2 separate regions of the Homo sapiens genome follow, and region 2 is linked to region 1. Evidence: fine-mapped expression QTL. Tissue or cell type: whole blood. Region 1 holds a variant in brackets; the other region holds the start of a gene. All regions are shown on one strand. Distances are between the middles of the regions.

The links. PIP is the estimated chance that this variant, and not a neighbour inherited with it, causes the effect.
Region 2: it holds the start of CHSY1, and the variant in region 1 is fine-mapped to the expression of CHSY1 in whole blood (TOPMed, PIP above 0.99).

Annotation. Positions count from the first base shown.
Region 1 is chr15:101,147,872-101,153,018 of GRCh38, forward strand. LRRK1-AS1 (LRRK1 antisense RNA 1) reads right to left here and starts at 3,968. Exons shown (of 3, transcript XR_001751724.2): 1 at 3,849-3,968. The variant A/G (reference allele first, on the strand shown) is at 2,450.
Region 2 is chr15:101,249,940-101,255,086 of GRCh38, forward strand. CHSY1 (chondroitin sulfate synthase 1) reads right to left here and starts at 2,109. Exons shown (of 3, transcript NM_014918.5): 1 at 1,198-2,109. The coding sequence starts at 1,517. RefSeq lists silencers at 1,094-1,523, 1,714-2,023, 2,194-2,573.

The DNA.
Region 1 (5,147 bases):
TTGAGCCCAGGAGTTCAAGACAAGCCTGAACAACACAGTGAGACTCTATCTCTACAAAAAGTTTAAAAACCTAGCCAGGCGTGGTATGCAACTGTAGTCCTACCTACTTGGGGGGCTGAGGTGGGAGGATCGCTTGAGCCCAGGAGGTCAAGGCTGCAGTGAGCTATGATTGCAACCACTGCACTCCAGCCTGGGCAACAGTGTGAGATCCTGTCTCTAAATGTAAAAGATAATCGACCAAAGTCACCTGTCTGGGGATCAGCAGTGCTAGGATGCAGTCCCAGGTCTGCTGGCTTTGGAGCCCCACTCTGCCCCCAGCCCCAGCCTGTAGGTTTCTTCTGGTGGGCGCGTGTGTATGTATTTGTCGTCTCACAACATGAAAAGCCTGTACATTCTGGCTCTGGAGTCAGACTGCCTCCCTCTGAGCCCCGGTTCCACTGCTCACTGGCTGTGTGACCTGGAGCAGGTTTCTTGACCTCTCTGTGCTTCAGTTTCCTCATCTGTAAAATGGGAGTAATGAGAGTGGCATCTACCACAGAGCTGGGATGGGGAAAGTCCTGTGTGAGCTATTTTTATTTTTGTTGTTGTTGTGGATGCTGGAGTGGGTGGAGGAGCCTCTGAGCCTGCACAGCTGGGAGGGGCAGTCCCAGGAAAGCGTCCGGAACCCTGCTGACCTTCGGAGCCCCCAGAACCCACTTCAGCGGAGGCAGGCGTGGAGGGCAGCGGTGTCGGGCTCTGACACCCTAGACGCTGTCCTCCCAGGAAGTGGTTTTGGTTTTATCCCACTTTTGGTCTGAGTGAGCAGACAGGCCCTTTTGGGCTCCTGTCCCCAAATAGCCTCCCACCCTGTATCTGAGGGAAAGTGAAACTGTCCACCCTCAGGTCCTGATCAGGTCCCTGCTGAGGCCCTGACCCCCCTCTGAGGTGCTCGGAAGAATGGGCTTGGATTCCGGCCAAGCACCCAGAGAAAGGTCAGCCGCGCTTGCTGGATGCGAGTGGGTCAGGGGCCCTGCTAGTGTGGGGACAATGGATCCCTCAGCCCTGGCCCGTGGGGCTCTGTCTGCCCATGGAAAGGCCCAGACCCCAGTGGGAAAGGTTCTGGGCTGGCGGCCTGGGGGTGCCCTGCACTGCCTGCCTGTCCTTGGGGCTTTATTGCCACTGGACTGGGCGTTTCTGTTGTTTCCCTGAGGGCACCTTTCTACCTACACCTCCAGCCCTCAGGGCCTGACCACCCTAGCTGGGCTTCCAGCCTGAACTGAGAGGCCCACCTTCCCAGGGCACCCTCTGGGCCTGACCAAGCCAGTCTTGCCTGCGACCCCTGAGAGGCCAAAGCAAGGCCCTGGGTACATGAGGCTTCCCGACTCTGCTTAGAGAGCACCGGTTGCTTCATTCCCCCCTACCTAAAGTGTGAGCTCTAAGATGGCAGAGGCAGGGTCTGAGACAGTCAGAGCCCCCATAGCTCCGTGCCAGGTCCCAGGTCCCCAGACCCAAGCCCACAGCAACAAGCACAGAAACCGGTGGTGTGGAAACAGTCCCCAGACAACCTTATCAGTCAGATAGCATAAAGCCTTCCTGTCTGCTCCAGCCTGGCCCCGTAAAAACAGAGCTGCTGATTAGAGCCTTCCAGACACCAAGACTGGAGCCCTTCACGGGCTGGAGAGACATTCTGGTGAGCTTTTCCTGCCCCACTCTATCTTTAAAAATTACGAGGGGTCAGGCACTGTGGCTCACGCCTGTAGTTCCAGCACTTGGGGAGGCCAAAGCAAGAGGACTGCTTGAAGCCGGGAGTTGAAGACCAGCCTGGGCAATATAGCAGGATGCCATCTCTAATAGATACATGTATTTGGGATTTTCCAAATTAGCACCTGTCCTTGAAAAGAAATTTGATGCTGTCTTTTTAAAACCATAAAAATATTCATCATTTACCCAGAAATTTCATTTATGAGAATGTAGCTTAAGGAAATAATGGAAAGGAAGGACTAAAGTACTAGTTAAAGCTACCCACTGCTGGGTCTGTCTAGAACATCTAACCTGACCCTGGAAATGACCCCATGCCCAACATCAAAAGGACGGCTAGGTTAGCGCACGGCAGCCCACCCGCACGGCTGTATTAGTGCACGGACGGCTGCTAAGGATGGCTATATTAGTACACGGCTGTATTATGCACTCGACGGGGTCCTGGATGGCTGTTAAGAATATAAGTGACCAAGGTACACAAGCGGCCTGTGCCCAGCGGGCGTGCAACGTGCCTGCATGTGACCAGGCATGAGGGCACATGTCAGGATGCTGGGATTGCAGCTCACACTCCCTCCTGGCCCCTTTTCTTGCTTTCATTCTTTTCTTTCTCTCTTCTTTCCTTTAACTGAGGCCACAAGGACTTCTGCCTGTCCTCAAGAGGCTGGGAAGACAGCCTCCGAGTGGCACCTTCTGGCACGTGGAGAGAGGAGGA[A/G]ATGCATGAAACCACTTCCCAGCTTTCTTCCTCATTTGCAAACCCTTGCTCTTCCTCTCAGCTCCTGTGAACCCCAAAACAACAACAAAATAGCATCGTCGTCATCATCATCGTCACCATCGTCATTGTCGTCAAACCCAGAGCCAAGCTATACTTCCTCCCCAGTGAGTCCACGTTTCCCTGCAGGCCCTGCCCTGAGACCCCAGCTCCGGAGAGACCTGTCACTGGAAAGTGTCTCGGAAGCCAACTCCACCACTCGCTGGGGCTTTCCTTCCCTTCCTCAGGGGAGCAGAGGAGCTAATTGTCCAAAGGCCAAGCCACCTGCTGGGTTGCCCAAGGAATACAGGCCAGTCCAACCGGGGACAAGCACGTTAGACAGAAAAATAAAATTCCAGATCCAAAGGGGAAGCTGACAGCAGTGCATCAGGGGCACACCCACCCAGGGTGGACAGCAAAGTAGGCACAGGGGGCTCCACGGCAAGTCAGAGCTGAGTGTTCCTGGCAGGTGTGGGCCAGGAACTTGACCCAGAGCTCGCTACCCAAACATCCAAGTCACTGCCTGCTCTGGGTGAGGGGGTGCTTGGGACCACAGCTGGGGGAGGATCCTCAAGCACAAAACCAAAAAGCACCAACCCTAAGGACAAGATCGACCAGCCTGACCGCGTTACATTTATGAACTTCTGTTATCAAAAGACACCATAAAGGCCGGGTGCTACGGCTCATGCCTGTAATCCCAGCACTTTGGGAAACCAAAGCAAAGGGATCACTTCAGGCCAGGAGTTCAAGATCATCCTGGCCAACATGGCGAAACCTCATCTCTACTAAAAAATAAAAAATAATAAGAATAAATAAAAAATAAAAGTAAAAAAAGACGTCATAAAGAGGGAAAAGACAAGTCACAAGCTGACAATATTTCAACAATAATGAGCAACACAGAATTTGTATTCAAAATACAGAAAGAACCCCGCTAATCTAATAAGGAAAAGATAAACAATATAATAGGAAAATGAGCAAAAGACTCAGAGGGGCATTTACAAATGAGGAAACTCAAATTGCAAAGACGTGAAAAGCTGCTTAGCCTGAAATGCAAAAGAAAGTCAAGAGGAGAATGGGAAGCAACAGGAAATACATACCTGTCCTGAGAGGAAGCACATCTGCTGTCGGGCGTAACCACAGTGAAAACGCTGCACACGGGCACGAAAGGACAGAGAGTGTCTGTACAGCACGGTCCAAAACACAAAACACTGGCCATGGTCCAAAGAACCCTCAAAAGTAAACTCAACTATTTTTTAAACTGTACAGTCATTCAATGGAATCTAACATTCATTCAATGGACGCATGTGTCAAAAATCATAATTTTGAGCAACAGTGAGGAGAACACAGAATTTAAAAAGAATACCTGCAGCCAGCCAGAATGACCACCCGAAAGAGGCCTGCAGTCTCAGCAATCCGGGAGGCTGAGGCGGGAGGATCACTTGAGCCCAGGAATTTGAGACCAGCCTGGCCAACATACCAAGACTCCATCTCTACAGAAAAAAAAAAAAGAAAAAGAAAACTTAGAGGGTGTAGTGGCACATGGCCATAGTCCTAGCTACTCGAGAGGCTGAGACGGGAGGATCACTTGAGCCCAGGAGTTCCAGGTTGCAGTGAGCCAAGATTGTGCCCCTGCACTCCAGCCTGGGTGACAGAGAACGATCCCAAATCAAAAAATAGAGAAAGAAAAGAAAAATAACAAAAAGAATACCTTGAATCTGATCTTATTTATATAAAGTACAGAAATAAGAAAAACTCTATAATGCATTAATCTGAGATGCATATGTTCACAGATGGTAAAGGCATAAGTGTTCATTTCATGACTACTACTATTTATTTATTTATGTATTTAATTTTTTTGAGATGGAGTCTCACTCTGCTGCCCAGGCGGAGTGAATGGCGTGATCTCAGCTCACTGCAACCTCCGCCTCCCGGATTCAAGCAATCCTCCTGCCTCAGCCTCCCGAGTAGCTGGGACTACAGGCACGCACCACCACACCCAGCTAATTTTTGTATTTTCAGTAGAGACGGGGTTTCACCATGTTGGCCAGGCTGGTCTCGAACTCCTGACCTCAGGTGATTCACCCACCTCAGCCTCCCAAAGTGCTGGGATTACAGGCGTGAGCCACCGCACCTGGCCTACACTACTACTATTTAAACTGGACCTAAAATGATGTCTGTGCAGTATAAAACACCGCACCATTGTTTGTGATTGAAAAGGCTGAAATGACTTGTGTCCATCTGTAGGAACTGGCTCAATAAACAAAGATGCATTAAGGTTCATTGTGCAAAAGTTAAACAAAAACAACCACTCAGTAGAGGCTGTCTGCATAAACAGACCCGGGTATATTGACAAGTGTGAGAAATACAACCAAGCGTAGAACAGGCCGGGTCGCATGCTTTCCTCTTCTACAGGCAATGAGGAAAATAAGAACACTGTCTTGTTTGTCTTTGCCTGTTTTTGCTCACAAACCCAGGGTGACCGTTTGTCCTGTCTCAGTTGGTGCCTGCCTTTCTGGCACAACTTGATCACACCTTTCACTCTTAGCAAGGTCCTGGTTTGAAGGATGAATTACATGGGCCACCCTACTCAAAACCCACTTCACCTCCATCCCTAGCACACAGCTAGCCTGCATTTTCCCATCTGCCCTGCAGGGGTCTGGCC
Region 2 (5,147 bases), 100 kb after region 1:
AGCCATTCAAGGGGCAGTCACTGAAGACCACTTTCACCTTCTTTCTCAGTCCTTTACTTTCTCCCTTAAAGGCAAGGGAGACCATATATGCTTTTCCCCTCACAACATCTAGTGCCTGAAAAATCTGACCAAGACTGCATTTAAAAACTGAAGTGTAAAGGTATTGGTTATAAGAACAAACAGCAACCAGCTTAGCCTGGCTCAGCACTGGCTGCTCTGAAATTTCATTACCAGACAACTGATGCTCTAAAACCATTCCCCACATTGGTTTGCTCTGTGGCTGGATAAGACCCAAACTTTATCCATACAGTAAGTGTCTCTATACTTCACACATATAGGGTTTCCATCAAATCCCTTTATCGAGTCTACAACCCTCTCCAACTTCAAATTCACTCCAATACAAATCTGATTCTAACCATGCCAGCCATTCCAAAATCATCTCCCTTCTAGAGACTACATTGGCTAATCCCTTTGTTAAACCTGAACACAATTCCAGCTGCTTTTATGACTCATTTGGCCAACTAGAGCCCAGTTACTGGATAACATGCATACACCACCAAGCTGAACTAATTAACACCAGAATGCAGTTTTCCACTGAATCTACCAAGGGCCAAGAACTGCTTTTCCCCAAGGTTCTCTCTCTCTGTACTCAACAGACTGGTGTGGTCCAATATGCTGCGGGCATTCTCTTTCATTTATAGGAGTGCCTCCAACTGCGAAATGTGAGAGTATGATGTGGAAAGGTTCTAGAACTAGATTAACGTACACGGGCTCCAGCTTTGCAAGGACAAAGGTGCACATTTTAGGGAATCCAGTATCAGCCCCAACTGCCTCCACTATCAGGTACTGTGCTATGAGTTTTCCAACATTATGAGGGAGACCCGATCTGTCGGGCCCTTCTAACGAGAAGCTTCGATTTGCAAAGGCTAAAGTGCCTTCATCAGGGTGAGAGGTACACCCAGCGAGGCCACACTAGTCCATCTGACCCCAAAGGCCATGTTCCTGAGCGCCGCGCTCACCATCCCGCCTCTGATCTTTTCTCCCTCGGCCCGGCGTCTCCCGAGAGGCAACCCGATCCCGCCGGAAGCCCAAGAAGGGCCTAGGAAGCGGGCGGAGGCGAGAGCCAGGAGAGCACCCGGGATGCCGGCCGCCGGGATGCCGGACGCAGGAGGCGGTGCCCGGGGAGCAGGGGCTCACCTGTAGGCGGCCACGGCCCGAGTCTGCAGGTATTTCTGGGCGGTCATGACTCCCACGAAGAGAAAGTTCCTGTCGCGCGGGCCGCCATCTGGGTCCGAGCCGGGCGGCCAGAGCTGCGCCCCGCGCGCATCGCCGCGCGCCCCGCCGGCCTGGGAAGCCGCCGCCTGCCCGGACCGGCAGCCCTCGGGGCTGGCGCGGCGCCGTGGGCCCGCTCGCTTCAGCTCGGAAGCCCGGGGCAGGACGAGCCGCGAGGCCAGCACGAAGCCCAGGACGAGCCCGAGCAGCACGCTGAGCCAGGCGCGCCGGCCGCGCGCGGCCATGCCCGCGCCGCTCCGCCCGCCGGGCCGCCGCCGCAGGCTCCGCGCGCCCTCAGCCCGCTGCCCCCGCCCGCGGAGGCCAGCCCGCCCTAGCGCCGCGAGGCCCGGCCCGGGCAGCGCCGCCGCCGCCGCGGGCCCGCCGCGCCCATCGCGGCCCCCGAGCCGCCCGCAGGCCCCGCGCCGGCGCTTTGTTCCGCACGCCCGCCCCCGCCGCCGCGGCCTGCGCCTTTAAGAGGGGACCATGCCCGGCGCGCGCTAGCGGCGGCTCGGGCGCGAGGTGGCGGCGGCTCCTCCCGCTCGCGCGCGGGGACGCGGGGCCGGCACGACGGCGACGACGGCGGCGGCAGACGAGTCCGGGCTCCCGTCCCGCCCTGCCCGCGTCCTCCGGCTGGCTGGGCTCGGTTCGCACGGCGCCTGTCCCCGTCCTCTTCGTAGCCGGCGCCGCCGCCGCAGCTGCACATCCTCCGGCTTAGCTCGCCATTGCAACAGGAGCCCCTCACGTCACGCACGGCGCGTTATGAAGTGGCCCCGCCGGCGGCGAGCCGTGGCCCCTCTCGGGATCCGTCCGCGCCGCGCGATTGGCGCAAAAGTGAATGAGGGGCGGTTCACGTGGCCGAAGTTTGACCAAAAAAAAAAAAAGCCCTCTCGGGCGCCCCGCCCGCGCGGTCTGCGACTGGAGCTGGCGGGCGGAGGGGGCGTGGGCCCCCGCCCGGCGCCCGCGGGGCCGGAGCTGCCCGTGATCCGCACCTAGCACCCGGCGCAAGGGCGTCCCCGCGAGGACGGCCGCTTCCCGCACCGCGGCGCCCGGGCGCGAATCTCGGGAGCCAGCCTTGCAGTGGGGGCTTCTCGGCCCCCAGACTCCACGCTGCGCACGTTCCTCCCGCACGGGCCGTCCTCGCTGCACCCCACGGCCACGCCCTTCCTGCCGCCGGGCCGGCCCCGCGCTCCCGGCCCCGCGCTCCCGACCACACTGCAGCTTTGTCCGCAGTCCCGCGGCCGCACGCAGGGAACAGCCGTCCCGGAGCCCTGGGGACGTGCGCGCCTGCGAGTGGACCGTGAATTCAGTTACCTTGTTCCCTGTTGCTAGTTTCTACGCTAAATAAGAAGAAGAAGAAGAAAAAGCCATCTTTAATACTTAAGGTCCACGCTTCTCATACAGTACTAGCATTTAATGGATCTCGAAGACAAGGAAAATGAAGTTAATGCCCTGGATGGTAAACCCTACTTTCATTTACATACTGTGTGGGCAGATAGCCGGCTAGTACCCCCAGCCTGGGACTTTGTCCCTACTTTAATATAGTCCGTCTGTAAAAGTGCCGTGGATTTCTAAAGACGGATTTTGGGTCCCAGATCCTCTACTCTGGATTTTAAGTTTTATACATTTCCTCTGCAATACTTCAGCTAAGGCAGCAAAAGCGGAGGTCTCCATACAACGAAAGTTTGTGTAGAGTTTCAGTCTTGTTACTTAGTCACCAGTATATTGGGGTTTTCTAATGAAACTTTTGAAGGGCAAAGTGTTTCCCTGGGCCTGAGAAGTTACCTGCATTGAATCAAATAAACACATGCCTGGGGCAATCCTTGGATCTTTCTTCATTGTTGACCAAATGGTTGAAATACTATCACACAGTTTAAAATGCCTGTGGGAGCTTCAGATACCTTCTCGGCACCTGAATGGTGGTCACTCTTGTTTATTCTTTGGATATTACCACTTTCTTTGACACTTGTGATTTATATTAAAAATAGTTCATTACCTACCTTCCCACAGAGCCCCTCCCTAAGGGGTGATCCACATCTAAAAATAAAATACTCATTATGCAGTGAATACAGGATTCCAGCAGTGGTCTTGGGAAAAATACAGAACATACAACCATGAATTACAGGCTCGAAAACCATCGAAAAAGGTTTCCACTAAGACCATAAACCACAAATGCCGAGGAGTCACCAGATCCCCCAAATTCAGCAGCCCCATCATTCACAGTGATTTACATGAAGTACGAATCTGGCCAGATTCAGATGTTCAATTTTGTAGCATATTCAACGATTTCAGTATTTTCTAACCTGCTTTAGACTTACCTAGTTTTCTTCGAAACTAGTGTCCAGTGAAAAGCTGGCCGGGCGCGGTGGCTCACGCCTGTAAACCCAGCACTCTGGGAGGCTGAGGCGGGCGGATCGCCTGAGGTCAGGAGTTCGAGACCAACCTGACCAACATGGAGAAACCCCGACTCTACTAAAAATACAAAATTAGCCGGGGGTGGTGGTGCATGCCTGTAATCCCAGCTACTCGGGAGGCTGAGGCAGGAGAATCGCTTGAACCCGGGAGGTGGAGGTTGCTGTGAGCCGAGATCGTGCCATTGCATTGCACTGCAGCCTGGGCGACAACAGCGAAACTCCGTCTCAAGGAAAAAAAAAAAAAAAGTATATAAATATCTGATGGGAATAATATTCTGAGGATGCCAAATATTTTGTCCTCCTCAATATCCTGGTTCCTAGTTGTCCCTCAGTTCCTAGGTTAACAGTCTCACCTGTCTCACCTGCAGGCTTAATGGGGGTCTTTCGTAATGTAGAAAGGATACCCTTTTCTTTGTAAAGGCTGAGCCTGAGGGCTTACAATTCCCTGGAGAAGGAGAGTAAGACATACGGGAACTCCCTCTGGGAGAAGAGGGATATGCCAGGCCAAGAGAGGGTTGGAAGGAGAAGAGAGAAACTGAGGTCCTGTAGAAGTCTGCCAGGGGCAGGGACCAATTCCGGCATGCAGCCTAGGAGCAGGAGGGCAAGCTCTAGCACATCTGGAAGGAGCAGCTGGATTGTTGAGCTGAGGCAGTTCTCCTGGGGAAGAATCCAAAAGTGTCCCAGTAAGGGGCCTGGCTCAGGAGACAAGGCTATCCTAAGTGGGGATTTCACAGCCAGTAGCAAATACCTGGAATCAAGAACTTCAGTGACAGCCAGAGACCCAAACAGCTGGACAGGACTGGTACCCCCAGTATGAAGGCCTGTCCCATGCCCAGCCCCACTAGTCAATACCAGCAAGGAGCCAGGGAGGACAACGAGGGTCTGGAACATCTGCCCCCAATGCACACACATGCGTCCTTCCCCACAGCCCCCTGGAGGCCAAGGCTGTCCTCATCCTAAAGCCCCCTCACCCTAAGTAATTTTTAAAGGTAAGGAGTAGGCAGGGTGATTCGCATTTATAGGGATTTCACTGCAGGGAGCTGAGGAAAGACTTTTCATGTTCCGGGCTTCTTGATTTCACTGTGCTACTGGCCTTCTCTGTTGAGGGAATCATTGACCATTTTTCTCATCATAAAAGAAGGGGAGGTATTAACTGTTACCAGGAACACTTGTAAGGAAGCCCTTAACTGTAGTTATTCCATGAAAGTCCCAATGGCACAGGAGTGGCCCAAGAGGTGGGCTGTGATGGATCAGGGATCAGGAGTGTGGGACCGAGTCTGAGCTCTGCGTGGAGTGAGTTCCACCTGGAGGGGCTCCGGGAGTCCGGCTCTGTCTCCAAATGAGTCTTTCTGCTGGATCACGTTAAACGGTCCTCCATAGTGATTCCAGACCAGTATTCAGAAATGTGTTCAAAAATCCCAGATCACTTAACTTCCCTTCTGTGTTCATGAGTGTGACTCTTTA